Linked DNA regions of Homo sapiens: regions 1, 2 and 4 are each linked to region 3. The links come from fine-mapping of genetic effects on gene expression. A gene starts in region 3. Each other region holds a variant in brackets. All regions are shown on one strand. Distances are between the middles of the regions.

Evidence for each region. PIP is the estimated chance that this variant, and not a neighbour inherited with it, causes the effect.
Region 1: its variant is fine-mapped to the expression of SLK in whole blood (TOPMed, PIP 0.91).
Region 2: its variant is fine-mapped to the expression of SLK in lymphoblastoid cells (TwinsUK, PIP 0.95).
Region 4: its variant is fine-mapped to the expression of SLK in whole blood (TOPMed, PIP above 0.99).

Annotation. Positions count from the first base shown.
Region 1 is chr10:104,029,741-104,036,612 of GRCh38, forward strand. COL17A1 (collagen type XVII alpha 1 chain) reads right to left here. Exons shown (of 56, transcript NM_000494.4): 48 at 6,752-6,872; 49 at 5,734-5,823; 50 at 5,523-5,633; 51 at 4,881-5,027; 52 at 4,205-4,594; 53 at 3,498-3,635; 54 at 3,166-3,228; 55 at 2,934-3,014; 56 at 1,546-2,550. The coding sequence ends at 2,495. Among named protein-coding and RNA genes, the nearest start is that of MIR936, 15 kb to the right of the region's middle. The variant G/A (reference allele first, on the strand shown) is at 3,871.
Region 2 is chr10:104,701,945-104,709,600 of GRCh38, forward strand. The region is part of intron 1 of SORCS3 (sortilin related VPS10 domain containing receptor 3); the gene reads left to right. Among named protein-coding and RNA genes, the nearest start is that of SORCS3-AS1, 40 kb to the left of the region's middle. The variant GT/G (reference allele first, on the strand shown) is at 3,281.
Region 3 is chr10:103,963,474-103,971,129 of GRCh38, forward strand. It overlaps SLK (STE20 like kinase), which reads left to right and starts at 3,667. Exons shown (of 19, transcript NM_014720.4): 1 at 3,667-4,422. The coding sequence starts at 4,273. It overlaps LOC102724351 (a long non-coding RNA gene), which reads right to left and starts at 3,572. Exons shown (of 5, transcript XR_007062282.1): 1 at 2,308-3,572. RefSeq lists silencers at 3,529-3,988, 4,029-4,078, 4,089-4,188 and an enhancer at 7,538-7,656.
Region 4 is chr10:103,874,781-103,882,436 of GRCh38, forward strand. STN1 (STN1 subunit of CST complex) reads right to left here. Exons shown (of 10, transcript NM_024928.5): 10 at 2,789-7,656. Among named protein-coding and RNA genes, the nearest start is that of SH3PXD2A, 23 kb to the left of the region's middle. The variant G/A (reference allele first, on the strand shown) is at 4,883.

The sequences.
Region 1 (6,872 bases), 66 kb after region 3:
ATTCTTGACTTAAAAAAAAAAAATGAAACAAAAGAGGCTAACATCCATTGCCATCCAGCTGAGGACATAACCTCATATCTGCCCATCCTCTTTCTGAGTTTTGTCCAGAGAAGGTAGTAAGTTTGGACTTGTACCCTATTTTACTTGAGCTAAAACTTGATGAAGACTTTGGGTATCTTAGGTAGATCTAGTAACAAGGAAAAAACTCCTATGTCTTGATTAATCAAGATAAGGATCACTATTAAAGGGGATATAATACTTGAACCCCTAAAGCTACTTTTTTTTAAAGGGTCAAAACATCTTTTTCCCCCCTTTTTTTGGAAGTTACTTTTAATAAGTGTAAAAGCTACAATTAAAAAGTAAAAAATTCAGCCTTTGGGTAAAACTAATGAATTCTTTTGAAAAAAAATTATTTAAAAAGCACAATTCCTTTATTATACACAATAGTTTTGCTTAGTAAAACTCAAGTTGTTTGAAATCTGGAGGCTGTATGAACTAATTTTTATTTTATTTTTGTTTTATTTTTTGAGATGGAGTCTTGCCGGCTGGAGTGCAGTGGCACGTTCTCAGCTCACTGCAACCTTCACCTCCTGGGTTCAAGTGATTCTTCAGCCTCAGCCTCCCGAGTAGCTGGGATCACAGGTGCCCGCCACCATGCCGGCTAATTTTTTTGTATTTTTAGTAGAGATGGGGTTTTGCCATGTTGCTCAGGCTGGTCTCGAACTCCTGGGCTTAAGCAATCTGCCCGCCTCGGCCTCCCGAAATTCTGGGATTACAGGCATGAGCCACCGCGCCCAGCCTTATTTTTAAAAAATTCTCATTAATTCATAGCAGGCAATTATCAGGATATAATAAAAGAGGCAAAAAGACCACGTAGAGTGTGTAGTGCTTGACTGGTTGTTGCCGTTAGCGGTTGTTTGATATAGAGGAAACAAGTGGAGTGTTTTTTCTGGGATAATATGAGATACTCAGCAGAGACCTTATGGAAAATAAAGTCTTTTTAGAAGAGTAGTGGTGTAGAAATAGATGCAATTTAATCCCATTTTTAATTATCCAGCAATTTGAGAGTCACAACTTGTAACAAATTCACAAAGTGGCTAAGTAGAGTCTCTTCTCAATTGGAGTGTCTGATTTTACTGTGCATTTCTTTGGGGCATTTGAGATTTGTACATTTTTCTTTAATAGAAGTTTCTATATTCCATATATTACTTGCCCTACAATCATAATTCCATTGCCCCAGGATAAAGCACTACCTAATTGCAAGTAATCTTCTTGCTCATTTGTTGCATGTTTATTTCAAATAACTTATGCTTGGGGAAAACTTTCATGTGCTTTGTAAAATCCCCAGATTGAGTTCATAGTTGCAGGTATCTAAAGATTTGCCTTTGAAGACCTCAGGGATTGAATGAAATACCAGAAGCTATGCCCCAAAATACAACCACTTTTGTTTTCTTGTGTTTGTAATAAACAGTGTTAGAATCAGACCCAATTAACCCAGACTATTTTTTAATCTTTCTTTGGTCAGACGAATCACATTAAACATGATATTAGAAAAAAAAACTTCTTTAATGGGAAATTTTACGATTGAAATGATGTTTCATCTTATAGACCACAAACAAATGTTTTTAGACATTGAAAAGTGGTTAAAGACCAACTGCGCCCAGTCCCCCAAGTGCCATTTTCTGAGTGCAGAATGGAGGGTGACGTCTTGAGCTGATGCTGTGTCCCCAGCATCAGGTTTTCTGTTTTCCCTCTTCTCCCTTTATTCCTTCCTTGTCCATTGCCCTCAACCTTCTTTTTCTGTTTGCTCTGGCCTGGTTCAGTATAACATATCCATGAACTCTAGTATGGGCCTACGGACAATCATAGCTACAATCAGACTTTCTAAGCAAATGGGAATGTGATATACATATAACCATTAGAAACCCTATCATCACCTCCTAGAGGGGAAGTGAATTTCTTAATTTTTTTAGTTGCAAGAGTCACTTCTTAGCCAACTGACTAGAGAATGCAGAATGAACAGGGGAGGAAGGAGCTGATGGCACAGCCTTAGAACAGTAACCAGAACACACCCCCATCAAGTGTCACCTCCAGGAAGGCGCCCCACCCCCATCCTCCGTTTTCTGGGCTCATATTTAGGTAAAGCTCTAAGACTCCTGAGCCAACTTTTATGTAACTGGCTTTCCTAGGCTGGGGCTTGAACTAAGTAAAGAAGCCAAGGAGTTCAGATCTAGATAGCAGAGAAGTAAGTCTCATTCTAAAACATTGCAACTACTGTTAGAGTCCACCCCATGAAGCTGTTTCAGATTGTGTATCTTTGACTGAATTCTATAAGTATATATTGTTCAGACTAAAACAAATGTTGCTAGCTAGGTTGGCTGTGCTGTCTCAGTAGGACATTGACAGACTCCAGCTTTCACCCTCTGGAGACCTTGGACCTAAGTGCCACATGCATTATGAGACCTGGTCCAGGAGCTGTCCTGCCATGGCTAGCTCACGGCTTGACAGCAATACTTCTTCTCCTTCTCCGCCCAGCATAGACTTGGTCACCTGAAAGTTAGAAGATCAGTAGGAAGTTAAAACATATCTTGTGGCCTGTGGGGATCTTGGCTTGGGCAATTATGGCAACCGTGACTACTGCAAAGATGGCTTCAAAGGTGAAATCTTTTGTAAGACTACATTTATTTAACTTGTTTGCCCCATTTCAACACCAGCTTGGTTCTCCTTTTCCTCCCTGCTTTGACACTCTCCTTTTCTTCCTCACTGTGAATGGGATTGTTATGCAAATTCTGCTTTTGGCAGTGTCTGCCTGGAGTAATTGGCATTTGCCTGAATTTCTCAGGCTTGCTCTGGAACAAATCACCTGCTTCTCTAATGAGCGTCAGCCTTGCAGCCCTCCAGAACATGCAAAACGTGGAGCAGTCAACACTTACCTTTGTCTCCTTTTTCTCCCTTGTGTCCTCGAGGGCCAGGTGGCCCAGGATGACCTGGTGGCCCAGCAGGGCCCCTGTCACCTGGAAGGAAAAATGGGGCGTAACTAAGTAATACATGAGTCTGGGGACTGAGGGCACAGGTAGCCGGTGTGGCACCAGCACAGGAGCTGCTTTTCAGTACGAGGTGGGTGTTAACACAGGATCCAGGGACTGGCTCTCTGCCACCACTTACCTTTGGGTCCTGGAGTGCCCATCTCTCCTTTTTGCCCAGGGGGTCCTTGAATGGCTCCATAAGCTGCAAAAGCAAGGAAACACTGGCCTTAGAGTCTTGATCACCTGGAAGCTTGGGACATCAAGTCATTTGTTCAGAGTAACACAGAGAGATAGTGATGGAGTTTGGACGTGTAAGAGGAAACAAAGTTCAGAATTTATAGAATTTGTCTAATTTTGAGCATCTCAAATGTTAATAACTGGAGATTTCTCATGAGACTGGTGTCTCTGGAGCAGACCCGTGGGAACCTATGCAGTGAGGCAGGTGCTGGGAAAGCAGTTGGATGCCCTTACTTTGGAAGAAGTCCATGAGGTCCGCAGTCACGTTGCTGTAGGCAGAGAAGACCTTGCTGATGCCGGGTGGCCCCTGTGGCCCAGGCTGGCCTGGTGGGCCCTGGACAGTGTAGGCCATCCCTTGCAGTAGGCCCTGACCTGTAAAACACCAGAGCTTGGGCACAGGAAGCAGGGATCTCCCAGTACCCTCTTCAGCAGGAGCACAGTGCCCTCCGAGTGTCAAACTCCCAAAGCAGTTGAACTAGATCAAGCCGCAGCAAGGGTGAAGCCCTCCAACTTCCTTTGTATTCCACTGTGTGACTGGCACAGGTCTCTTCCTGCTGTGGGCCGGCATCAAAAGCTTGTTGACTGCGTAACTGTGCCGTTAAGCTGC[G/A]CGGGGAAAGGACTCTTAGCCAACATCCTTCTCTCGGCCCCAGCAGAAAATCCAGCATGGTCATATGACTCATCTGGGACCCAGAACGAGCTAGGTGTTGGGAAAACAAAGTACAAAGCCCCCAGCGTGCTCTGTTCCCCACAGCTCGGGTCCCAGGACTGGGGCTCCTTAAGCTGAGTAGGCTGAGAGCTAGGCTGGGGCTGCCTGTCCCCTCCAGCCCCTGCCTGCTTGATTCTGTCTTCACAGCCTGGGGGTTCCACAAACAAGAAAGCCAGTCTGGAGATGCTCCCACGCTCCTTCCCCCCAGCACCAAGGCCTAAATGTCCCCACTTACGCTGCATGCTCTCTGACACCCTCACAGCCAGCTCATTGTAATCCAGATCTCCAGCAAAGTCAGCTCCCAATAGTCCGCCATTGCCAGCATACATGCCGCCTTCTGCTGCTGCCCCATAGCCTCCGCCTGGGCCGATGTCAGTGCCATAGGGACCCCTGTCTCCTGCAGCTTCACCAAAGGCACCGCCTGCACCCAGGGAGCCTGCACCACCTCCTCCTGTGCTCATGGAAGAGCTGTAGGAGCTGCCCCGCCTGACAGATGAGCTGTGTGAGGAGGAGCTGCTACCCCGACTGTGGGAGGCATCCGTGGACAGGAGGCGGCTGTCCCCAGGGGGTCCCTGCGGCCCAGGAGGGCCTGGGGGGCCAACAATGAAGCTGCGCACATCAGGACCTGCAGGGTGAGAAGCTGCATGAGTGGGAGCTCAGATCTCGGTGGAGAGAAAGACTTGGGAGTTAGGGAGTCTCTCCCAGGGTGTCAATGCCCCTGAGAGACCAGAAGTGAACTTCAGGGTTCTTGTACCCGAGTGGGAGAATTTTGGTGTGGAAGGAAACCGGGCTTACCCCACCAGTGGCTCTCGTGTGGCCTTCCTGTCCCTTTAAGTGCCTCCCTGCCCCACTTACAGGGAAAAGCAAGGCCTGCGGGGTGCCTGGTGGGGCATCACCGTCGGGGCACCTACTTGTGAGGTAGCTGATCAGCTCGCTCCGGAAGCTGTCGCTGTTTTCAGCTGCATAGGTTGCCAGGGCTCCTGAGACACCCGGGGGCCCTCGAGGCCCTGGGGGACCAGGAGGTCCTGGAGGGCCTGGGATGAATGACAAGCCGGCAGCTGGGCAGAAGGAAGAGAAAGAAAGGTCGGGGTAGTGCTGCGGAGGAAGCTGAATTCCCAGCCTGTGCTCGGGGCGCTGTGGGCCCCACCTGAAAGGAGGGGATGAGGCTGGGCCTCCCGGGTGATGGGAGGAGAGAAAAGCAGGAGGCCAGAGCCTGCTGTTTCCTGACATCATCCAGGAATGGCTGTTCCCGTCAGGCTCTCCCACTCCCAATTCTGAGCCTCATTCAACTCAGCCCTCCAGTCACTGAGAGGTGGAGCCCCAGGTCGGCCCTAATCACACACCGGGCTGCGCCTGGGAAAGCCATCTCTCCCCACCTCTGTCCCTGCCACGGCTGAAGGCCCCTTGCCAGCACATGTGGCGCTCTCCAGGGCCCTGCACCCAGCACTGTACAGGCTCCAGGAGCACTTAGACTGCCCTTGCTAAAGCCCATGGGAGCCCCCAAGGCCCGGCTGCATCCCCTGCCCTCCCCATCCCACTCCACAGTGCCCTACTATGTAAGTAAGACGAGAGGTCCTCCACGCTGATGCTGGACCACACATTGCCTGGGATCCCTGGTGGACCCGGGGGACCTGGGGGTCCAACGATGCCTCTGAATTCAGACCCTGAGACACCAAGGGAGGGCACGGAGTCAGTCCTGGCCTGGGCCAAGGGACTCTGCTTCCTCCCCAACCAGTTGGACAGATGTCCCCTGCTGGGCCTTACCTCGCAGCAAGGAGAGGAGCTCCTCATAGGAGGTTCCCGGCAAGCCAGGGGGCCCCGGGGGACCAGGAAGCCCAATGCTGATCCCAGAACCTAGGGAGGTGATGGATTCAGATCAGGCAGGGGGAGGCAGATGGAAACACCTGTCAGAGAGGAGGTCGGATACAGAAGAGGTTTGGACAGAAGTGGGGTCCAAGAAAGAAAAGAGATGGTGGCAGGAAGAGAGGCAGAGAGGAGGAGCCCAAAGGAGGAACGGAGGGGCCCACGGGGCCGGAGAAGCAGGTCCAGTGTGCCTGTGTGCTTCATTCTGTGTGTGTGTGTGTATGAGTATGTGTGTATGGGAGTGAGTGTGTGTGTGTATGGGAGTGTATCGGAGTGTGCGTATGGGAGTGTATGGGAGTGTGCGTGAGTACTGGAGTGTATGGGAGCGTGTGTATGGGAGTGTGTATGAGTGTGTGTGTATGGGAGTGTATGGGAGTGTGAGTACAGGAGTATGGGAGTGTGTTTATGGGAATGCGTGTGTGTATGCATATGTGAGTGTGTATGGGTGTGTCTGAGTATGGAAGTGTGTGTATAGGAGTGTGTGTATGGGAGTATGTGTATGGGAGTGTGTATGGGAGTGTGTGTGTATGGGAGTGTGTGTGTATGGGAGTGTGTGTATATGTGTGTGTATGGGTGTATGGGAGTGTGAGTATGGGTGTGTGTGTATGGAAGTGAGTGTGTGTGTGTATGGGAGTGTGAGTATGGGTGTGTGTGTATGGGAGTGTGTGTGAGAGAGAGAGAGTTGTATGTAGACTCCACACGAGACAGTGCCTGAGACCCCCGTTTTGGCTTTCCTTGCCATGCTTCTTGACCTGCTCCAGGCTCACAGGTTTGAACGGCTCTGAGCACTGCTCATTGCTGGGGTTGGTGCAGTCTGGCAGGTGGGGGTCAGTGGGGCAATCACAGGGAAGTTCACGCTGCGAGTCCTCATCCCAGTCATCCCAGGCCCTTCCCAACCACCCCTCCTGCAGACACTTACTCGACATGTAGCTGAGAATGCGACTACTCAGCTCTGCATAGTCCAAAGACAGGAGGGACCCATCTCCACTGGCTCCTGGTGGCCCTGGCGGACCCCGAGGGCCCATCAAGTACTGACGTAG
Region 2 (7,656 bases), 740 kb after region 3:
TCTTTTGTAAAAGGGCATATTGTAAATATTTTGGTTTTGTGGGCCACCGGGTGAGCTACTGGACTCTGCTATTGTGTGAAAGCAACCATACACAATGCATACATGAATGGGTGGGCCTGTGTTCCAATAAAGCTTTATTTACTGAAACAGATGGAGGGTCAGACTTGGCTCATGGGCAGTAGTGTGCAGACTGCTGGTGTATACAGTCTGTTGGATTCTGTCTATGCGGACCGCTGTGTTTGAGCACAATGGAAACACACTGTGTTTTCATATGGTTTCTGCAGCTGCCATCCAGTTCCCTTCCTTTTCCCTTCAGAACTGTGTTACAGGATACAATTAATATCACTATTACTTTTTGAGACCTAGTCTCTCTTTGTCGCCCAGGCTGCAGTTCAGTGGCACGATTTCAGCTCACTGCAACCTCTGCCTCCCAAGTTAAAGTGATTCTGCTGCCTCAGCCTCCTGAGTAGCTGGGAATACAGGTACCTGCCCACCACCATGCCTGGCAAATTTTTATGTTTTCAGTAGAGATGGGGTTTCACCATGTTGGCCAGGCTGGTCTTAAACTCCTGACCTCAAGTGATCCGCTTGCCTTGGCCTTCCAAAGTGCTGGAATTACAGGCGTGAACCACCGTGCCTGGCAGGATACAGTTTTTAAGTGATGTTTCCAAGAGCTCCATTTCCAATGTTTGCATTTTCATCTTAAGAGCTATGAACCTTGGACTGTACTCAGGGGCCTGATTTTAGTTCTTCAGAAGCAAAGACTGTAAAAATCTTCCTGTTCTGGTGCTGGGGTTCAGGTACATGGTCTAGTGAAATGGCACTAGACAAATGATAATAGAGTGCTAGACTGGGTGACCCTGAGCAAACCACTTAATCTCACTGAGTCTGGTTTCAACTATACGAATATCTAGCTTGCTCATTCCACAGGGTTGTTGTGAGGATCATTCATTCATTCAGTTTCTCTTTAGTGAGCACATACTTCCTGCCCTGGCTTTTGCTAGGCATTGGAGAAATAATGGCAAACAAAACAGGGAAAGGCCTACCCTTATAGAGCTTACTTTCAAGTGATCAAATTTGTTGATGTAAGGGAGAGAACACTTCAAATCGATTGATTATACAAGAAGTTAGATTTTCCTGACCATTTTAAACAAATAGCATCCCAAAGTCCAAGGGAAATTTTGGTCATTTTATTAAGAAGTTGAAGTCTCAAGAAAGCCAGTTGGATGGCAGTTTAGATAAAATGATTCGGGTTGAGGGCCAGGGCAGGGAAAGAATGAAAACCAAGTTTAAAAGTGGCCTGATAGGTCAAATGGTATTTCTGGTTCTAGATCCTCGAGGAATCGCCATACTGTCTTCCACAATGGTTGAACTAATTTATGTTCCCAACAACAGTGTACAAGCATTCCTATTTCTGCACAGCCTCGCCAGCATCTATTGTTTCCTGAATTTTTAATAATTGCCATTCTGACTGGTGTGAGATGGTATGTCATTGTGGTTTTGATTTGCATTTCTCTGATGATCAGTGCCATCATCCTCAGCAAACTAACACAGGAACAGAAAACCAAACACTGCATGTTCTCACTCATAAGTAGGAGTTGAACATTGAAAACACATGGACACAGAGAGGGAAACAATACACCGGGGCCTGCTGGAGGGTGGGGGGTGAGGGGAGGGAACTTAGAGGATGGGTAAATAGGTGCATCAAACCACCATGTCACACGTATACCTATGTAACAAACCTGCACATTCTGCACATGTATCCTGTTTTTTTTTTTTTTTTTAAGAAGAAATGAAGAAAAAAAAAAGTGGCCTTATAGAGCTGCTTTCTACTAAAGTTCACTTCTGAAAGAAATCAGAGAGGTTTTCGACTCCATCAGGGTTCCAAACCTGAGGAGATTACCATTAAAGTCAGCTAGTCAAGGGTAAAAATTAGAGTGTAGGAGGATTCATTTTGAAACATTGTCAGCAACCAGCTGGAAAAAAATAGCAGCGACTGTGATTACTAGGAAATTTCTTGGAGGGTGTAGAAGTGTATCAGGTAATCTAATCTGTCACCTACTTCAGTGGCCTTTGGGTGGTTGGATAAGCATTTCAGTTTAGAAGTAAATATCACTGAACAGGAGGGAGAATAACATGGTTATTTAAAACTCTGAGGCCTTTTGGCCAGTTTTGGATTTGTTGTCAGCCAGACCTGATAGCTCATCCAAGTTTCCTTCTATGACTTTTTTTTTTTTTTTTTAGACAGGGTCTCTCACTGTCGCCCAGGCTGGAGTGCAGTGGCACGATCATGGCTTAGTGCAGCCTTGACTTCCTAGACTCAAGTGATCCTCCCACCTCAGCTTACTGAGTTGCTGGGACTACAGGTGTGCACCACCATGCCCAGCTATTTTTGTTTGTTTGTTTTAATTTTTTAGGGACGATATCTCCCTATGTTGCCCAGGCTAGTCTCAAACTCCTGGGCTCAAGCAATCCTCTGGCTTCAGCCTCCCAAAAAGCTGGGATTACAGGAATGAGTCACCATGCCCCAGCTGACTTCTACAGGTTCAACTACAATATTTACAGAGGGAGATCTTTGGGTCCTGGGTGAGGAGGGAAACTGGGGATGGGGTAGGGATGGGTAAAGGGGTCAACAAATTAGAGGCAGACCTGCTTACAGCCTTCTGAAGATAGACTTTCTGCAGAATGAATGTGAAAAGGTTTTGTAAAGTGTAATGGACCAATTTTTCCCTAGTACTCTAGGGAATGTGTGTTCCATCCATGCAGATCCTTGCATCGTGCCTGTAAAATAGCAAACATGCAAGCAACTGTGGAAAGGATCATCTTTGCCATCTTATGTTCAGTGTTCCAGCCATACCAACTCATTTGCAGATCCCCAAATGCACTATGTGCCTTTATAGATGCTGTTTTGGTGCTTGGCCTACTCTCCCCCTCTACTTTGCCTTGCTAGCTCTTGCATCCTCTTTAAGAGTGTACACAGGTGCCCTTTCCTTCCTGGAGGTTTTCTTCTCTCCTCCTCCACCACAAGTCTGGTTCAAATGCTCCACCTTAACCCCCTCTTCCCTCATTTCCCAACCCCAGATATGTCTATTATAGCCCATGTCTCAATAAATTGTAGTCATTTGTATTTTATGGTGGAGACCAATTCTTGGTAATTGAAAAATTTGTCTGAACTTTAGGGGAATCATTAAAAAATACATAATGCCCTGGACATATTATTTTAACTTAAAGTTTAGAGATGTGTATTTATTTGCTCATCTTTTGATATGGGCAGGCCTTC[GT/G]TTTTTTTTTTTTTTTTTTAATTGGTCTGCTGATTAGAGTTCCGGATTATCTTTCTTGTTTAACTCACATCCATAATACATCATCTATGATTTCCAGTGCCCGATTTTTTTTTTCATGGAATAGAAACCAACTGGGAAAGCAATTTAAAGACTCTAGATTCTCCCTACTCCCAGTATTTTATACTTTTCCCACTCACACCGAATTAGGTTCAACTACATTTTTAAGTGACTTACCTTTATCAGGTCTTTGCAAAACATTTAACTAAACTTTGACAGAAGCTTTTATTGGTACTCATCTTCTGTTGATTTACATATTACTTAATTAAACAATGTAATTATAATGACATGTAATGACAATGATAAATGGTTTTGAGAATGGACACGGTTGGCTCCTGTAAACACATACCTCAGTTGTGGGAGAAGCAGTGCTTGTGTATATGAGAATGGAATAACAGGTGACCCGACTGGTAGGAGTAGCATGAAGTAGGCATCAGAAGCAATGGAGAATCCCAGTTAATCCAGCAGCTCAGTGGAGCACAAGTTAAGGGAGCAACATAGATTGAGCTAGCCCAGTGCCTGTTCGAGTGGATATTCAATAATTTGTTAAATAAATGTGAGAATGATCCAGGAAGTCGAGAACTTCTGGGGATATGAGCTTCAGGACCACTGGATTTGAACTCGTAATTGGCCATCTCCTCTACCTAGAGGGGTGCTGGGCCCGAGTCAAAAGCCTAGAACTTAACCACTGTCTGCAAAATGAGACTGTGAAGAGAAATCTCTCTCCAATAACAGGGTGCAGATTTCTTGCCGAGGCTGCTAGCTGTTGCTGACGAGTGAGTATGAAAGTCTCCCTCCTTGCTCCCTGGATGACCTCTTTGCCATTCCTTCTTGTTTAAGCTCCTCTTCTTTGGCTCTGAAACCTGTGAAATGTTTGGAGACTAGAGTTTCTTTTGTTTGTTTGTTTCTTTTCTTCTTCTTTTTTTTTTTTTTTTTTTTTTTTTGAGAAGGAGTCTTGCTCTGTGGCCAGACTGGAGTGCAGTGGCACCATCTCAGCTCACTGCACCCTCTGCCTCCCGGGTTCAAGCGATTCTCCTGTCTCAGCCTCCGGAGTAGCTGGGGACTACAGGCGTGCACCACCACGCCCAGGTGATTTTTGTATTTTTAGTAGAGACAGGCTTTCACCATGTTGGCCAGGATGGTCTCCATCTCTTGACCTCGTGATCCGCCCACCTCGGCCTCCCAAAGTGCTGGGATTACAGGCGTGAGCCACTGTGCCCGGGCCAGAGACTAGAGTTTCTTGAGAGATATACTACTGAAAGAAGCTATCTGTATTAAAATTCAGTATGTGTAAACTACTTTAATGAACCTGGTTCCACCGTAGCATATGGGAAGTCAGATGGTAAGGGGTGCGATGTATGCATCAGTGTCCCTCTCCTGGTATAGTCCCACTTCCCTGTGGATAAATTTACCTTACCTATAGGGAGGCACTCACAAGAAGCTTATGCACACACACATACACATATGTACATTTATGTGTTTTATTTATACCTACATAAACATGTATATGCACACATACATAATGTATACATGTACATCTATAAGCTATAGGTCTATAATGACTTTTTCTTCTAAACGTGAGAAGAAAAATGATTTTTTCTTTTAAACGTAAGTGTGGGCACGTGGAAGATTGCTGTGGTTGCAAGGTCAGCTCTTGCAATCTAGGGACTGTGGAGAGAGACAGAGACTAAAGTTTTTCATATGTGTGTGGTATTGGAGTGGGGGTTGCTTAAATTAATAAGTTAATGGAGAGAAGTGTGAGCTATCTGAGGCATCGCATAGAGACAGGGCAGTCAGGCTTATCCACAAGAAGGAGCAGTGGGAATTGAGTCCAAGAGCCAGAAAAACATACTGATGTAGTGGCTAAGAGCACGTTTCCTAGTTTCAAATAGTTGTGGGTACAAAATCTGGCTCTGCTACTTACTAGCTGTATATCTAGGCAACTTACCTTAGTGTTTCATGGTTTAGTCCATAAGAAAGAGAATAATAGGACTTCCTTCACAGAGCTGGTATGATAATTAGATTTTATATGTAAAGTAATATACATAGTGTCAGCCATTCAGTAAGATACTTAAAAATGTGATATTCTTATAAATATTAATTGTATCTGGGGACAGCACAGGAACCTGCTATGGGGGCACTTTTTGGTAGTAATTGAGATCTAAAGACCCTCACTGAACCAGACTCTCTGATTAACACTGAGTAGTAAAGTGTAGTTCCAGGTACTTTGGGGCTAGGGGGAATCAACGAAGTAGATTTCAGGACCACCACAATGCAGGTTTGCATATAATAGGAGAGAGGTGGCCAACATCCATAGAAGGAGGACCTGAATCACATTCAAGGAAAATATATAAATGAATATCAACGATGAGATCCTATCCCATGCAGGGGTTGAGATACCCTGGGCAGTTTGTTTCACCTGCCTTTAATCACTGAGATTAACACTCAAAGGCTGAGAGCTAGTTAAAATGTATCTGCCTCCTGCCTATTTCCGAAACCAGAATAGAATGCCTGTTGCTTCCCTTCCCCCATCCCCAGCCCACTCCAAGCCTGTTCTTTATCCCTTATATTAGGAAGGATTTGCCCATGACAGTCTTGAGACCTAATGTCAGATACACTTGGGATGCAGATCTTTTATTGAAGAGAAGGTTGGACTTGACAGTGAGAGGGGTTGAGATGAATGAGTTTCCATTGTATTTATAGAAACTCAGTGCAATATCTCTCAAGGTATAAATAGAACAATGAAGTGTTGACAAAGGGGCTGGTTTTCTGTAACTGTGGAAACCCTGCAATTATTCCTGGAACTACACTCATTGTTTATCTGCATCTGAATTTTAATAAACAGGGCTCTTGCTGCTTATTCATGAATTTTCAAATGGAAATATCTCTCCCATTATTATCCCCTTCTTGTGAGTCAGGCCCCATCTTGCAAATTTGCAGCTGAGTAAATATACGGAACATTAGCAGCAATTAGATAATTGGTGCCCCGGATCAGCCCACCCACAGCTGTGAATGAATATGGGCTGCATGAGTGTCACCTGGTGCAGCCTTCCTGATGGCACTGCATGCCACCACAGTCTTGCAATTAAGCACAGAATTTTACCAGCCTTAGTCCTGGCCCTCCTTTCTCCCAAGAGACCCAGACTAGCAAGGTAAGTGAGGTTCCCTATTCTTCCAGCTGTCATCATACAATGAGAGATGTTAGGCCAAAGAAGTTGGTAAAGAAGAGAAAGTCCATGTATCTTCGCTTAGCTGATTGCTAAATTGCTTCTGATAACTTGTTTGGTGCATATAGCCAGCAAAAATTCATGTTTGGATCTGGGCTGGGGAGTTGGGTCATAAATCCTGTTTTTCTGTAAATCTCCCAAAACTTGCTAGCTCTGGGCTGGCCACATTTCTTCCCCCCCATCATCAGTTTTTTGGCCTCTGGCATTAACTTGGGATTCCTTTTAGCAGCCATATTTTAATCTCTCTTTCCTTTGGATAATATTTCTTCCAGGCCTCAGACTGCACTGGGTGCCTTTGCCAGCTCATGCTTTGCTCCTGTTCCTCAGGCAATCACAAAGCCCTTTTGAGGCATATAGATTTTGTTTTTTAATTGCTAGAGACTTCAGGAAAACAGAGTACTATTGCAAAAGGGAAAGTGGCAAGAGGGCTGCGCCTGCTATTATGACATTATGATGGAGGCTCATTAGCGTGCAGTGGAGCCACTTCTTTTCCTCCTCTGCCTTGGCCACCTGGCCCATCTCCTCGCTTTTGCTTTTGGTTAGACAGCAATTCTGTCTAGCCCTCCAGTCTCTCACACTCATTCTCCAGCCTCACACTCCCTGGAAGCTTTCCCAGGTTACTTCTTTCCTTTTTTATTGCATCCACCTTCTGTGTGTTTGGGAGGAGGCGGGTAGAGAGGGAGTTGGAAATAGTGAGGTAGAGGGGGAGATTTGGGTTGGGTGTTTGGATCTGGGAATGCGTCACATGGAATTCATTCATCTCCTGGAGATCCTTCCAGGCCACCTCACTGTGTCCCTGCATAGCAGGAATGTCATATTGGGCAATGAACAGTGGTCTCCAAGGAAAGCTCCAGAAGAAGTTGAAGTCTGGGTGGGATTTTGTGCCAATTCTCCCCTGTTTTTTTGATATGTACCATCCCTTTATAGGCATGGGATACATTATCTTTTGTTTATTATTAGAATTTTTTTACATTGCTAATATTTAACATCATTCATGTAATACTAAAAGTACATTTCCTGTACTGAGCACCTACTCTGCTTTATGTACAATTATATATCTTTTCAGCACCCCATGAGATTAATCTTATGAT
Region 3 (7,656 bases):
GAGGTGGGCAGAATACTTGAGGTCAGGAGTTTAGGGCCAGCCTGGCCAACATGGCAAAACCCTGTCTCTACTAAAAATACAAAAAATTAGCCGGGCTTGGTGGTGTGCGCCTGTGATCCCAGCTACTCAAGAGGCTGAGGAGGAGAATTGCTTGAACCCAGGTGGTGGAGGTTGCAGTGAGCCGAGATCACACCACTGCACTCCAGCCTTGGCGACAGACGGAAACTTCATCTTAAAAAATATATATATATATATATTTATATATATATATATATACACACATACACATACATACACACAGAAAAAAACATATATAGGCCTAACTTTTTCAAAGTAGCTTTATTGAGGTATAATTTACAAAGCATATAATTCACCCATTCTAAGTGTAAAATCATCACCATAATCTAGTTATAAAACCCTTTTTTATTGTCCCCCAAAATTCTCTCATGCTCATGGGCTTAACTTTTTTTATTTGGCCATGTATTATGTTATTAAAAGGAAAAGCTTTTACAAGAGGCTCATTTCCATTTCTTTTTTTCATAATATATGAAAAAATTTATGATAATATTTCTATTTCTTTTTTTTTTTTTTTGAGACAGGGTCTAGCTCTGTCGCCCAGGTGAAGTGCAGTGGCACGATCTCAGGTCACTGCAACCTCCGCCTCCCAGGTTCAAGCGATTCTCCTGCCTCAGCCTCCCGAGTAGCTGGGATTACAGATGCATGACACCACACCCGGCTAATTTTTGTATTTTTGTTAGAGACGGGGTATTGCCATGTTGGCCATGCTCATCTCAAACTCCTGACCTGAGGTGATCCACCCACCTCAGCCTCTCAAATTGCTGGGATTACAGGTGTGAGCCCCCGTGCCCAGCCTATTTCTATTTCTTAATGGTGTCAGAACTTTATCTTTGCTTTGCTAGTGACTTTTTAAAAACCACTTATTGAATTATGATTGACATACAATAAGCTGCTCATACTTAATGTATATAACTAGATGAGCTGGGTGATAACTGTACATCACCACTGCCTATTACATAAACATATCCATCATCACAGGCTTAACTTTTAACAGTGGTTAGGTCGAGGGTAACTATGAGTAGGGGGGAAGGAAGGAGGACAGAACTATAGACAGCTTCCTAGTTTATAATTTCTGTATTATTTGAATTATTTACAACAAAAATATACTATCTTTCATTTTTATTTTTTCTTCGAGACAAGTTCTAGCTCTGTTGCCCAGGCTGACGTGCAGTGGCACAAACATGGCTCACTGCAGCCTCATCCTCTTGGGCCCAAGTGATCCTCCTGCCTCAGCCTCCCCAGTAGCTGAGACCACAGGTGAGTGCCACCATGCCCAGCTAATTTTTCTGTTTTTAATTTTTGGTAGATGTGATCTCGCCATGTTGCCCAGTCTGGTCTCAAATTCCTGGGCTCAAGAAATCCTCCCACCTCAGCCTGGGATTATAGGTGTGAGCCACCCCACCCAGCCAGTAATACACTATCTTTTAATTGACAAAATAGTAAAGTCTTTTCTATTTTGAAAAGAACAAAATAAGGAAACAGACATATACCCATTGACCGAAATCTACTTTTGGCAATTTATCCTAAGGAAATAATCAAATATGTGGAAAAAGATTTGTGTACAAAGATATTTATCCGTATTTTATTAAAAACAGAGGAATTATAATCTAAATATCTCATAATGGAAGAGAACAATTATTAATTGTATTGAAATATGCGAAGTGCAGGATGCAAACCTTTTTATGTAATACAACCTCAACCATGTTGAAAAAAGTTAATGCACAACCAAAAAAATCCTGTTTTGAAATATAAGTTCTTATCAATGGTTGTGTCTGGATAGTAGAATTATAGTACTTTTAATTTAATTTTATTTTTTAAGCATTTCATTTTCTCCATAAATGATAATAATTACAAATAATTATAGTATTGTTTTCACAGGTCTATACATTTGTCAAAACATATAAAAGTGCACACTTGCAGCAAACCACCATGGCACGTGTATACCTATGTAACAAACCTGCACGTTCTGCATGTGTATCCCAGAACTTAAAGTATAATTTTAAAAAAAAGCAAACAAGTACTAGCAAAAAAACCAAATGCACACTTTAAATATGTACAGTTTATTGTATATCAATATATTGCAATAACACTTAAAAAAATAGAAGGATCTCAAGGAATTGAATCATCTTAAGCGTCTTACTGGAAGGGGGGTTTTGCTATGCCATTTTGGGGCTGAAGGGCAAAATGACTGGGGGGGCAGACATTATATAAATAGCAATATATACATACATTGTCTCTGCTCCAGATACCGCCATTCATTCATTCATTCACCAGATCTGCCTTCCTATTATATGCCAGGAATGTTGCCGGGTACTTGGATATCTTGATGAACAACAAACCACTGGCCTGAAAGAGCTCCCGTCTGGTGGAGGAGGGGAAGGTAGGTCACCACCTGACGGATTCCAGCCAACGTCCACACTGCCCCACCAGGGAGTGCTGCCCAAGGGGGCTGGAGGCAGATCAGGAAGTGGGGGCCTTAGCTGAGGTGGAGTCACCAAGAGTGACACCAGGTTTACAGTTGTGGAGGTGGCCAGAAGTTAGTTTTACCCTCAAGGGAGTGTCGCAGTCATCAGTTGAGAAGTGGGGGCCCGGCGCGGTGGCTCACGCCAGTACTTTGGGAGGCCGAGGCGGGCGGATCACGAGGTCAGGAGATCGAGACCATCCTGGCTAACACGGTGAAACCCCGTCTCTACTAAAAATACAAAAAAATTAGCGGGGCGTGGTGGCGGGCGCCTGTAGTCCCAGCTACTCGGGAGGCTGAGGCAGGAGAATAGCGTGAAGCCGGGAGGCGGAGCTTGCGGTGAGCCTAGTTCGCGCCACTGCACTCCAGCCTGGGCGACAGATCGAGACTCCGTCTCAAAAAAAAAAAAAAAAAAAAAAAAAGAAAGAAAGAAAAAAAAGAGAAGTGGTCTTAAACAGTTTTTATGTATCTGTGTCTATCTTGCCTGCACACTTAAAACAACAAGAGTAAGAACTAAGATTGAGCGTTTACGGGTGCAGGGGCCGCGCAAAGGGCTTCCATCTATTGTCTCATTCACAACCTTCTGGTAGGGACTATTAGGATCTTCATTTTACGGCGAGGAAACCGAGGCTCGGAGAGGTCACCTGCCCAAGGTCACAGATCTCTCTCTCCAAAGCTCAAGCTCACAACCACCACACAAACTCCCCTCTCACTGTACCTGGGGCCCGTCTGAGAGCGAAAAAGTCCGCTTTCAGGTCCCAACCCTAACAGGTCCGGCTTTCACTCCACAGTTTTTCCCAGATCCAGAATGGAGACAACATCCGCTAGCACAATCAACAGGGTCGTCCCACGGGGGCCGCTCCATCAAGGCCGTGGACTGACAGGATTTGGGGCTTGGAGGGCAAATGAGAAACAATCGTCAGGGACCGAAGAACAAATGCGTCCATCACACCAGCCCCCCGCACCCCGAGCCCCGTGCTCCGCTCACGCGAACCCTCGGGGGCAGCCAGTCTGAGGGACGTAGCGCGCGTGCGCGGGGCCAGAGGGGACGCCCCCACGCGAGCGCGCGGTGAGCAGGGCGCGTGACCGGGCGGGCGCGCAGCCGGGAAAGCGCGCGGGCGCGCTACGGAGTCGGCGTCGGCGCGCGCTCCAGGCCGAGGCTGTGTGGGCTGGGGAGGGAGACAGGCGGCGGCGGCGGCGCCCCAGACCCGAGGGGACGCGCGGGCCTTGCGCCGCGGGAGCGGACGGCGGCGGAGGAGACCCTAGGCTCGCGGCCCGAGGCGGGAGGGCTCGGCTTCTCGACTGCCCGCCTCCGAGGCCGCCGGCCGCTTCTCTCTCCCAGAGTGGCCGCCGCCCCTGGAGACTCGCCGTGACACGGGCCTAAGCCGCCGCCGCGGGAGTCCTGACCGCTCGGACCCGTCGGATCAGGCCGGGTGGGAGCGAGCTTGCGGGCAGGTGCCGCTCCCGGAGGGTGGGCCGGAGGCGAGGCGCCCACCGCGCGGCTCGCGGGCCGGGCTCGGCGGAGGGGCCGCTCGCGCAGCACCCCCACCGCGGGCCGGAGCCCGGGTCGCCGCCCCGCCTTCTCCCGGGACCGCCCGGCCGGAGCTGCGGGGGCCGAGGGACGCCGCGCCCGCCGCCGCCAGCCGGGCTCGCGCGGGAGAGCAGGGAAGAGAAACTTTGCCTTTTATTGTTTTTAGTCCTTAAGTGCAAGGAACTCTGTGTTGGGAGGAAAAATGTCCTTCTTCAATTTCCGTAAGATCTTCAAGTTGGGGAGCGAGAAGAAGAAGAAGCAGTACGAACACGTGAAGAGGGACCTGAACCCCGAAGACTTTTGGGAGATTATAGGAGAACTGGGCGACGGAGCCTTTGGGAAAGTGTACAAGGTAAGAGGGGGAAAACGGGAAGTTGTACTGCGAAGGTAAAACAGCCACTGGCCTGGAGTGGCGGGAGGACTTCTGCTCCCCTGGTCCTTATCCTGTCCTTCTTTTGACTGTTACGGTTCGATGCAACTTTACTTGGCTGATCATCCAAGGAGTAGCTAAGAAGTCGGGTTTACGGTGGAACAAAATGGGGCCTGGATGGAGTTTAAAGAGCGATTGGAAAAGGAGACAGGGTTATAAAGTCTACTCTTTCAAACTTCAAAGGAAATGAGAGTGTTCTTTAATTTATAGGAGGGGTCTGGTTGTGCCCTTCAAGTATTTTAGAATGAGAAACTCATTGCACTTTGCAGTGGATTTGTCTACTGACTGCATTCGCGTGCATGCTTGTACTCCAACAGTTCTGTTTTTAGGGTCCAGTATATATATTTGGTTGTATCTAGAGCTAATACAGAACTAGTTGGGATCAAAGTGATTGCTACTTGCAGTCTCTTCTTGAGTTAGTTGCTTGACAGCATACTATAAAATAGAATGGAATTTCTGACAAAATTTCCAAAAAACCTTCATGTGGTACTAGTTTTAAATATATTTATGGTAAGCATTGACTAGAAGTCAGTATCAGCGCTTAAGCAGTTAAAAACACACACGCATGTATTTATTTCAATAGAAAGAGGCTTGGCGTTTCAACCTGAAGGCATTAATGTTAACTATTTAATATCTCCTAAGGAACATATGAATGATGTCATTGGAGTATTTTCATCCTGAAGGGCGAATTTTTTATGAGACAGCGTTTAGGGGAAGGACCCACAGGGTTGCCTAGAAGTGAAAACGTAAGAAAATAACTTATGTTTATACAGGACTTTGAAGTTTTTAAGTACTTTCAAATAATTTGGCCCCCACAAAAATCTTGTGAGGTAGGCAGGTCAGTATTAGTATCCACATTTCACAGATGAAGATATTGAAATTGTTCACAGTCACATGAGTCTCAGCCTAGACTTGAACTCAGGTCTTCTGAGCCCATATTTAGTATTGTTTTTTATTTTAACAGTCACTGGTAGAAATGAGAGCATTTTGCCTACTACTTTCTTTTTTTTTTGAGACGGAGTTTCGCCCCTTTTGCCCAGGCTGGAGTGCAATAGCGCGATCTCGGCTCACTGCAACCTCCCCCTCCCGGGTTCAAGCGATTCTCCTGCCTCAGCCTCCCGTAGTAGCTGGGTTTACAGGCATACGCCACCATGCCCGGCTAATTTTGTATTTTTAGTAGAGACAGGGTTTCTCCATGTTGGTCAGGCTGGTCTTGAACTCCCGACCTCAGGTGATCCGCCCGCCTCGGCCTCCCAAAGTGCTAGGATTACAGGCGTGAGCCACCGTCCCCGGCTGCCTACTACTTTCTAAGCACCATTACACTTCTGCCTCTGCCCTGCCTCAAATGCATCTTGTCAAAACCCCAGTCCTCATTCTTTATCCAGGCTAAAATATCTACTCCTCTCTGTGTGCTTTCAGAACACGTTGTTCACATGGCTATTATAGCACTTGTCACTTATTACAATTAATATGTTTATGTTTCTATAATAAAATTAAGGGCCAAAATTATGATACATATTTGGGTTCATTCACTGCCTTAGCGTATAGTGATGTGTCTGTTTATTTGTTGAAATGAAAGAATGTGTTTTGTCTGCATATGAATGCTGTCGTGGAAGCTATCATAGGCTGTGGAAGTTGGCAAAATAAGCTTTGTTATTTGTGTGGAGGGTAGAGTATGGGCTTCAGCAAGAGCTTCATAAGATGCAAGGCTTCATTGTAGTGGGAAGATCACTCCTGGGAATCAAGAGTTGTGTTTTAGTGCTGGCTGTCACAAACCAGCGTTGTAATCCTGGACAAAACACTTAACTTCTCTGGACCTCCGTTTTCTTAGCCATAATATTAACTTTCTTAGGAGTTTAGATTCTTTCACCCATTAAAGTTCTGTGAGTATGTAATTAGCCTGGAAAGGCAAAAATAAATGCTCAAGGCACCTAGAATCTTGTAGTTAGAAGGTGGTAGGTGATTATGGGCAGTTTTCATGGTGTAAATAAGTTTTATCGAATATAAACAGCTTAGTAGTAAGAGCACTGGCTCTGGAGTTGGAATATAACTTAGCTCTCTCACTCAATAGCAGCATATGACCTTGAGCAAGTTTCTTATTTGTCCTGTGCCTAACTTTGCTCATCCATAAGACATCCTCAGTGTGAGGATTGAAAAAGATAATATAAGGCACATGGAAAGGGCTCAGTAAATGGTAGAAATTACTGTTATTACATTTAGAGCTCATAGATGCAAACTTTGGGATGAGATAGGGAAAGGAACCAAGAAGATAATAAACCATTTTGTTGGTTTCTAATGGCATGGGCAGACTGTGTGGAGATACTAAAGCCCTGTGTTATTCTTTCATGACACTTTCTGCAAAATGTGATCTATCTTCCTGTACTGAGACATTAATTGAAAAATTTCTGAAGAACAAGAGTCTTATTTCATGTAGTTATTTGAGCACTATAAAATTGTGTCAAGGAGAATTTCTGTGATCTTGATGACTGTATTTTAGTATGATATTTGAAGAGCACGGGCTGGCACTATTTTTTCTTTTTTCATTTCACTACTCTCTGCTTCTAAGGAGTAGGGTATGAGTTTTTTAAAAAATAAAATTTGAAATTAAAACTTATCTGTCTTCTTATGGCCTCTTTTTTCTAAAAGTTTTTGTTTTTCAAGATTCCATAGAAATTGAGGATTTATAAACTTCCTTATATTTGGAAGAAAAAGCTATGGAACCTTAACATAGTACGTAGTAGTATGTAGTAGAAAACTGTTTATAAACTTGATTCTAACTATCATTTGCTTACAGAAATTAGTAACTGTTACAAAGATTATATTGTAAATAGAGATGAGGTTGAGTATCCCATTTCCCAAATGCTTGGGACCAGAAGTGTTTTGGATTTTGGAATTTTTTGGATTTTGGAATATTTGCATTATACTTAGTTATTGAACATCTGAAATTGAAAATGCTCTAGTGATCATTTCCTTTGAACATCATGTCATGTTAGCACTCAGAAAGTTTCAGATTTTGGAGCATTTCAGATTAGATTTTCAGATTTGGGATGTGTAACCTATAGGTAATCATGTTGTGTATTTAGTCTGAGTCATTCTTCCATCGTGTACTTGTTGTATTCCTTCCACTCAGTCCAGCACTGTACACATTTAACAGTT
Region 4 (7,656 bases), 89 kb before region 3:
TGGCAGGTTTGGAATTTTGAGTTTTGAGTTCTTCCGGATGTTTATTCCAGCTGTGTATTAACTGGCACCTTGGCAGCTGCGCTCTGGGCTGGTTCCGCAGTAGATACCACTGCTAGAACACATGCCTGGCCGTCTGTAGCCCCTGCTGGAAGCAATGGCTACTGTCCAGGGTAGAACTTTATCTAAAGGCTCCCATGATGAACAGATGCTCAACACTACTCATACTAAAAAAACATAAATGCAAACAGAAACCAGAAATCATTTTCACCTATCAGATGGACATGGACTAAAAATACTGATAATACAAACTGTGGGTGAGCTCGTGGGTAAACAGTAGACGCATAAATCATTGATAGGAGTGTACGATGGATCAGTCTTTTTACTGGGTAATTTGTTAGTGCCTATGCAAATTTTAAAAAGCTCATGCCCCTTTTCCTGGCAGTTCCATTGCTAGAAATTTACCATACAAACATACTTTAAACATATACCAAGAAAAGAAAAATGTTTCCTGCAGAATTGGTTGCAATAGCAACAAATTGGAAACCAATTAAATGTTTTTTAATAGGGCCCTGGCTAAGTGCATTATGGAACAGCAATACGATGGAATTATGTCACCATTTTAAAAGATGCTGATTTTGCATGCTAAAGTGAAAAAGAAAAAAAGACTTCCAAAATATAGCATTAATAAAAATGTGAAGTGCATATAAAACGCTGACTTTTTTTTGGAAGGATACACAAAAATATTGTTAACATGGTTATTTTCCTAACAATATATATATAATCTTAAAAATATACACAGTAAGCTGGGCACAGTGGCTCACACCTGTAATCCCAGCACTTTGGGAGGCTGAGGCGGGCCGATCACCTGAGGTCGGGAGTTCGAGACCAGCCTGACCAACATAGAGAAACCCCATCTCTACTAAAAACACAAAATTAGCCGGGCATGGTGGCACATGCCTGAAATCCCAGCTACTCGGGAGGCCGAGGCAGGAGAATTGCTTGAAGCCGGGAGGTGGAGGTTGCGGTGAGGCGAGATCATGCCACTGCACTCCAGCCTGGGCAACAAGAGTAAAACTCCGTCTCTCTCTCTCTCTCTCTCTCTCTCTATATGTATGTATACATACATCACCTAAATATATATACACACACACACACACACACATATATACACACATACTTATATATATAGAGAGAGATATGTATATACACATATATATACACACATACATACACACGGTATTTGGGAAGTGGTAGACCATTCTTTCCCCTTCTTTGTACTTTTTTGGTATTTTTAAGACTAGCTCTTTAAATAATGATGCTGTATTTATATAAAAGCTGAAAGATATCTGTGAGAGACTGTATTTTCCAATGTGGCCAGGGTAATATTCCCGGACCTATATGCCCTTCTGGAACCTCATTACTCCCCATCAAGAGGTGGAGTTTATTCCTCTCCTCTCGAACCTGCATGGGACTGTGATAGCCTCAACAATTAGAAGGCCATGGAAGTGAGGCTGTGGCTTCTGGGGCTACAGAAAAAGGGCCATGTGGCTTCCGTGTGGCTCTTGCTATCTTGCTATCTCTTGGAAAGCCTGCCCTGGAAACCCAGACACCATGATGTGAGGAATCCCAACCTAGCCCATAATTCTGAGTCTGTTCACAGAGTCGTGCACACATCACCACTATCTAATTCCAGAACACGTCCATTAACCCCAAAAGGAGCCCTGTACCACCCAATCCCCACCCTCCCCATGCCTGGCCACACCATCTACTTTTTTTTTTTGAGACAGAGTCTCGCTTTGTCACCCAGGCTGGAGTTCAGTAGCATGACCTTGGCTCACTGCAACCTCTGCCTCCCGGGTTCAAGCAATTCTCCCTGCCTCAGTCTCCCGAGTAGCTGGAATTACAGGTGCCCACCAGCACGCCTGGCTAACTTTTGTACTTTTTAGTTGATACAGGGTTTAGCCATGGCCAGGTTGGTCTTGAACTCCTGACCTCAGGTGATCTGCCCACCTTGGCCTTTGAAAGTGCTGGGATTACAGGCGTGAGCCACTGCACCCAGCCTCATCTACTTCTTCTCTGTGTATGTGCCTATTTTCTGGACATTTTATATAAATGGAATCATACAATATGTGGCCTTTTGTGTCTAGCTTCTTGCACTTAATTTCTTCAAGGTTCACCATGCTTTAGCATATATCAGTACTTCATTGAGTAATATTGCATTGTATGGATAGCCCACCTTTTGTTTATCCATTAATTGGCTGATGGACATTTGGGTTGTTGCTACTTTTTGGTTATTAGGAATAATGCTGCTGTGAACATTTGCTTACAAGTGTTTGTGTGGCCATGTTTTCAATTCTCTTGCGTTGAAGTACTTTTACATCACCTAAATATTAAATGATAAATACATAATAATCAAATGATACTAATAACTGGTACACAATTAATTCTTATTAAAGCAAATTCCCTAAGAGCAGAAACCTGTTCCTTCGTGGTATTTCAGGTTTAATAAAGACCATTGGGTAGACCTGAAGTAATACAACAGCACTATTTCCAACCCAGATTTTTCACCAATTCACACTGACATTTTCTCAAATCAGTCTGAAAAGAGATTGTCTGTTTATTATCTCTATGCAAAAACCCAGGGCTATGCTGTGGTCTTCAAAATCCCTCTTTATGTTCCAAAATGAAAACTTATCATTTAAATTTGACATATAGGAAAGGACTAGAGCCTTTTCAGGAATTTGGAGTTTGATTAGAATTCTGGGGAACACAGAACCTTTTGCTGTACTGTGATTTACCTATTCAGGTTTATTTAATAAATACAGTAGAGGTTAACAGATGATAGTGCAAGTTCAATAGAAGTAGGGTGATTTAAAAACATTCTGGATTACAATGAAAACTCACTTATGTGGGAGTTTGAGCTCACATTTACAGCCTCCACCAGCAGAAATCATGCAAATAAGAACCACTGCAGAGTTCTTTGTCCACAGACACCATCTCCCTTCAGGATGGTCCTGCTTTTCCCCCAGCACCTGTGCAGGCATCTCTGGCGAGCCTTATCACAGTCTTTCTGAGTTTGCCTGTATGCTTCACATAAATGTAGTAAAAAAACAATGAGACGCTTCTTTGGGGCAACTGCTGTAGAGGCCACTAATGAGAAAGTGTAGATGTTTCCATCATGGAAAATTACAAGTTTACTTGGTTTCAGTCCTTGGCACTAAGTCTTAGGTTCCTTGTCACTGAACAGCCTTCTTTCCACTTGGCTTCTCTTGGCCAGCATCCTGGCACACCATCAGAGGAGAAAATAATGAGAAAGAAGTGTCTTACAGGGATGGGGAGCACTGGTGGCTTACCATATGGGCATAATCATGGCTCTTCAAACAAATCCTTGACCAGACAGTAGCACTATTTGTCTTCTTGCCTACACAAGCTACATGTGGGGTTCACACCTCCTGAAACATGTGCACACTAAGAGAACTGGAGAATGTTTGCTCAGTTTCCCTCCTTTTCAGGGGAACCCTCTGGCTGGTCTTCAGTACATGAGCAGTGACCCAGCTGTGGTTAGCTCCAGAGAGTTTTCTAAGAGTCCCTCATGTTCTTAGAGTTCTGATGTTGCTTAGAAGACAGAGGCCTACCTCATTCTTGGTTTACTCATGCTTCAGGTTACATGAATGTGGGGTGGGGAGTGGGAAATAGCTTTATAATTTTTGTAGAAATTATATAAGGAGTCAGGAGTTTGAGACTGCCCGGGCCGAGTCTGGCTTACACACCGGTTGAATTCTTGTCCAGCGCCCAAGAAGAATGAGAATGTACTGACAGTGGAAGAGTGAGCACTTGCTAATTATAAAAATGCCAAAGGATAGCTATGTGGGGTAAAAAGCACCTGAGATCTCACCATGCAGAGGTAACATGTGCATCCCTTTGGTGAGAATTTCTAGTAATCTGTCTGATGTGTATAATTATTCATCCAGCATTTCCCAAATATATTTGTGAACATAGTGTTAGTTTGTGTTCATCCAGGAGCCAATCCTGAGACAGAGACCGGAAAGCAAGAAATGCATCTGGGAGGTCAGCATGTGGTAAAGGGGAGCGGGGAAGTAAGGCAGGGAGGGTGAGGCTGGTGGTTATCAGGTTAGCTGCTCCTGTGGGTGGCTGGGTGGTGCTCAGTCCCACGGAGGAACTGTGGAAAAGAGTATGGAACGTGTGCCTCAGCAATGCTTACCTGAGGGCGAGGGAGCTGGGGCATTTACAGCCAAGGTGCTGTTGGCTGAGGCTGCTCCCTGGGGGTGTGACTTCTGAGCACTTCCAGCCTGCACAGCCTACTAAGACATGTGAGAAAGCACCCCCGCAACCACTGCCCCTAGGAAAGAGGCAGACACTGGCAGCCGGAAGGCAGCCAGACACATACTTATTGGTCGTATTGCTTAGGAGATGCGTCAGGCACTGTTCTAGGTGCTGGGGACATGGAAGGAAACAAAACAGAGAATTCTGCCATCATGGAACATTCTGTCTATTGGGGGAAAATAATAAACAGGGCAAGTAAGAAACCATGGAGTGTGTTAGGCAGTATCAAGTACTGTGAAGAAAAACGAAGTAGGAAAGGGAGTTCTGGGAAGGGGGACAGGAGATGGGTTGCAAACAGCGAAAGAGGAATGAGGGCAGGCCTCACTGAGAAGGTGACACTCAAGTAAAGGCTGGAAAGAGGGCAGAGGGAGGCACTTCACATGGTTACCTGGGAAGAGGAAATAGCAGGAGCACCAGCCCTAAGGCAGGAATATGCCGAGGCATGTGTGCAAGGCCCGTGCGGCTGGGCTGGGAGGGCAGGGTAAGCGGGGCCGTGCTGACCTCTGTGCAGCCTCAGGCTCCTACCTGGGGCAAGACC[G/A]AAGGCTGTAGGAGAGTGGGAGCATTAACAGGGTGGCAACAGCTGCTGTGCTGTGAACAGCCCAAGAGGGGCCAGGGCGGAAGCAGAGAGGACTGAGGAGGCCGGGGAGGAGGGTGAAGCAGTTAAGATTCTGGAGATATTCTGAAGGTAGAGCCAAAAGACTTGCAGACAGATTGGATGTGAGGTATGATAGAAAGAAAGAAGCCAATGGATTTGGTTTGAGCAACTGGATGGAGCTACCTCTTCCTGAATCAGGGACATTTTCCAAAGGAGTGGCACAGGATTTTTTTCTCGGTCACTTTGCAAGCCAGGGACCTCTGGCTGGTGACGGCCCACCTGGGCCTCGCTTGACCATGCTACCTGCTGCAGGAGACGGCCCGCCCACTTCACCCGCCTGGGCCAAGTATGGCTTCCACACTGGTTGAGTTCTTGCCCAGCACCAAAGAAGAATGAGAATGTGCTGACAGTGGAAGAGTGAGCAAAGCTGGGAGTTTTATTGAGTGATGAAACAGTTTTCAACAGAGAGGAGACGTGGGGGTGGTCCCCCTACCCAAAGGCAGGAAAGTCCCCTTAATATGGGGGAGTCTGGGTCTTTTTATGGGCTCAGAATGGGGGGAGGGGCAGGCTGTAGGTATTACTGGAAAAGGCAACATTCGATTGGTTAAGGCGTTATTCAGAAAGAACAATTGGGAAAGGGTGGGCAAACAGGAACAGAAGTTCCCACTCTGCGTGGTGGGTTTCATCCAGGACCAGCAATCTGGTCTTTTAGCCTTCAGGCTGATCTTTGCTTGAACGTGGGGTTTCATTTGGGACCCTCCCCTCTCTGCCTAGGCATTTGGCTGCCTCATGTCACTATCAGGAGCAAGCCTGGGGTCAGGAGTAATTGGGAGCCTGGCTTTGGGCCTGTGAAATCTGAGATGTCCATTAGAGACCTAAGTGGAGATGTCAGTAGCAAACTGAATATAGGGGTCTGCAGTTCAGGGAAGAGGCCCATTCTGGGTTTAAACTGAGGTGTTAGACAGCATGTAGATGGTATAATCCATGTGGCTGCTGGAGACACCCCAGTGAGCAAGCCAGATAGAAAAGAGGTCTGGGACTGAGTCCTCAGGGAGGCAGAGCACTGAACAAAGGAACCTGAGAAGGAGCAACCAGAGAGCTTGGTGTCCTGAAAGCCAAACGCGGAAAGTACTTCCAGGAGAAGGGAGTGGTCGACTGTGTGTGTGTATATATATATATATGTACATGTGCTACATTTATAAAGACCTCCATGCAGAAATATACACTCTCTCTACGGATATATACATACACACAGGGAGCTGTAGATAATGGTGTTATACTATAGAAACAGATCTATAACTCTATCTACTTCCCACTAAATCTACTAGGGACAGTGTGCCATGGCAACACTGTCTGTCTGCTTTCATCATTTTTTTCATAGCTGCATAGTATTTCATTGTGCCCAAGAACCGTAATTAACTTTTTCCCTATAGGTATTTTCCCCAATATAGAATTCTAGATTATACAGCAATGAACACCTTGTGCAACCATCCTTTCACACTTGTGTAGCCATCTCCTTGAGATAAACCCCTAAGAGCAGAGTTGCTATAGGCAAGGGTATGCCCTTTTTACCTTCTGATTCTGAACTCCTTCCTGGGCAGCCCCACTAATCAGATGCATTCAACGTGGAACAGCTGCTGACCTCAAGGAAGAACTGCCCAGGACATCATTCCAGGCAGACTCTATGCTAGGGACCCTTCTGTACACAGAGAAGATGCAGGGCAGCCACTACATAATCACTGTTAGAAATCAGCAAAGGTTTGCATCATTACAAAAGTCTATGACAGGAGGCAATCTACTGGTTCTAGCTCTCAGCCTGACGTATCGAGCTGCAGCGGACTTCTGCGTATAAAGACTGTCCTGTTTCCACGGAGAGAGGAGCAACTCTCCAGGCCTAAAGGATCTCCAGCTGAGCCACGAAGAGCTTATCACATCAAGAGCAAATGCAGCAGACGAAGGCAGTGCCTTCTGTGAAATGACTGTAATTAACTCCAAATCTTTCTCCACACTTTATTTTTGCTGGCTGGATTTGTCATTTTGCTGTCAGAACAGGCCTACAACATACCTCAGATGTTTTTCCTTTACCTTGTCATTCTGAGCAAAAGCATGACTCCATCACCTGTCTGGGCACATACCGAGTCTTTGTCTGGATGGTGTCAGCACATCCTGCACACTCAGCGGCAACCCTGAAAATAACATCTACCACCTGCCAGGCAATTGGCTGACTGCCTCCGTGATCTTCAGGGGCATCGAGGGACAATGTATTTAGTCATGCACCTCTGTAAGTGCAGGGAAATGTACTGGGACACCTTTCGATTCCCAAGGAAATAAAAGGAAAATGACAAACACATAGTCACGCTGTGGATCCCTGTTTATTCCCATCTCTGGGCAGGCCTGTAAAGAGCATCGACCCAGGTCTCAACCCCACTGCTGGTAACTGAGCCACAGAAACTGTAAGCACTCATCCAGGGAGAACTACTCCCCTAAACCGGTTCTTAGCCAGCAAGAGAGGCCCACAGGAAGGTCTCTGATAACCTGAAGTTTTGAAAAGCTTAGAACTGTGTGATCAGGCCATATGCCCCTCAGTTCCTGAATGTTCACTACCCTGTGGTGTCCCTTTGCCATGGAAGAGACTCCAACCACACACATCAGTTAAGCTGCCAACACTGTTTCCTCCCCATTCTGCTCTGCGAACAACGCACAGTCCAGCCAGGAGC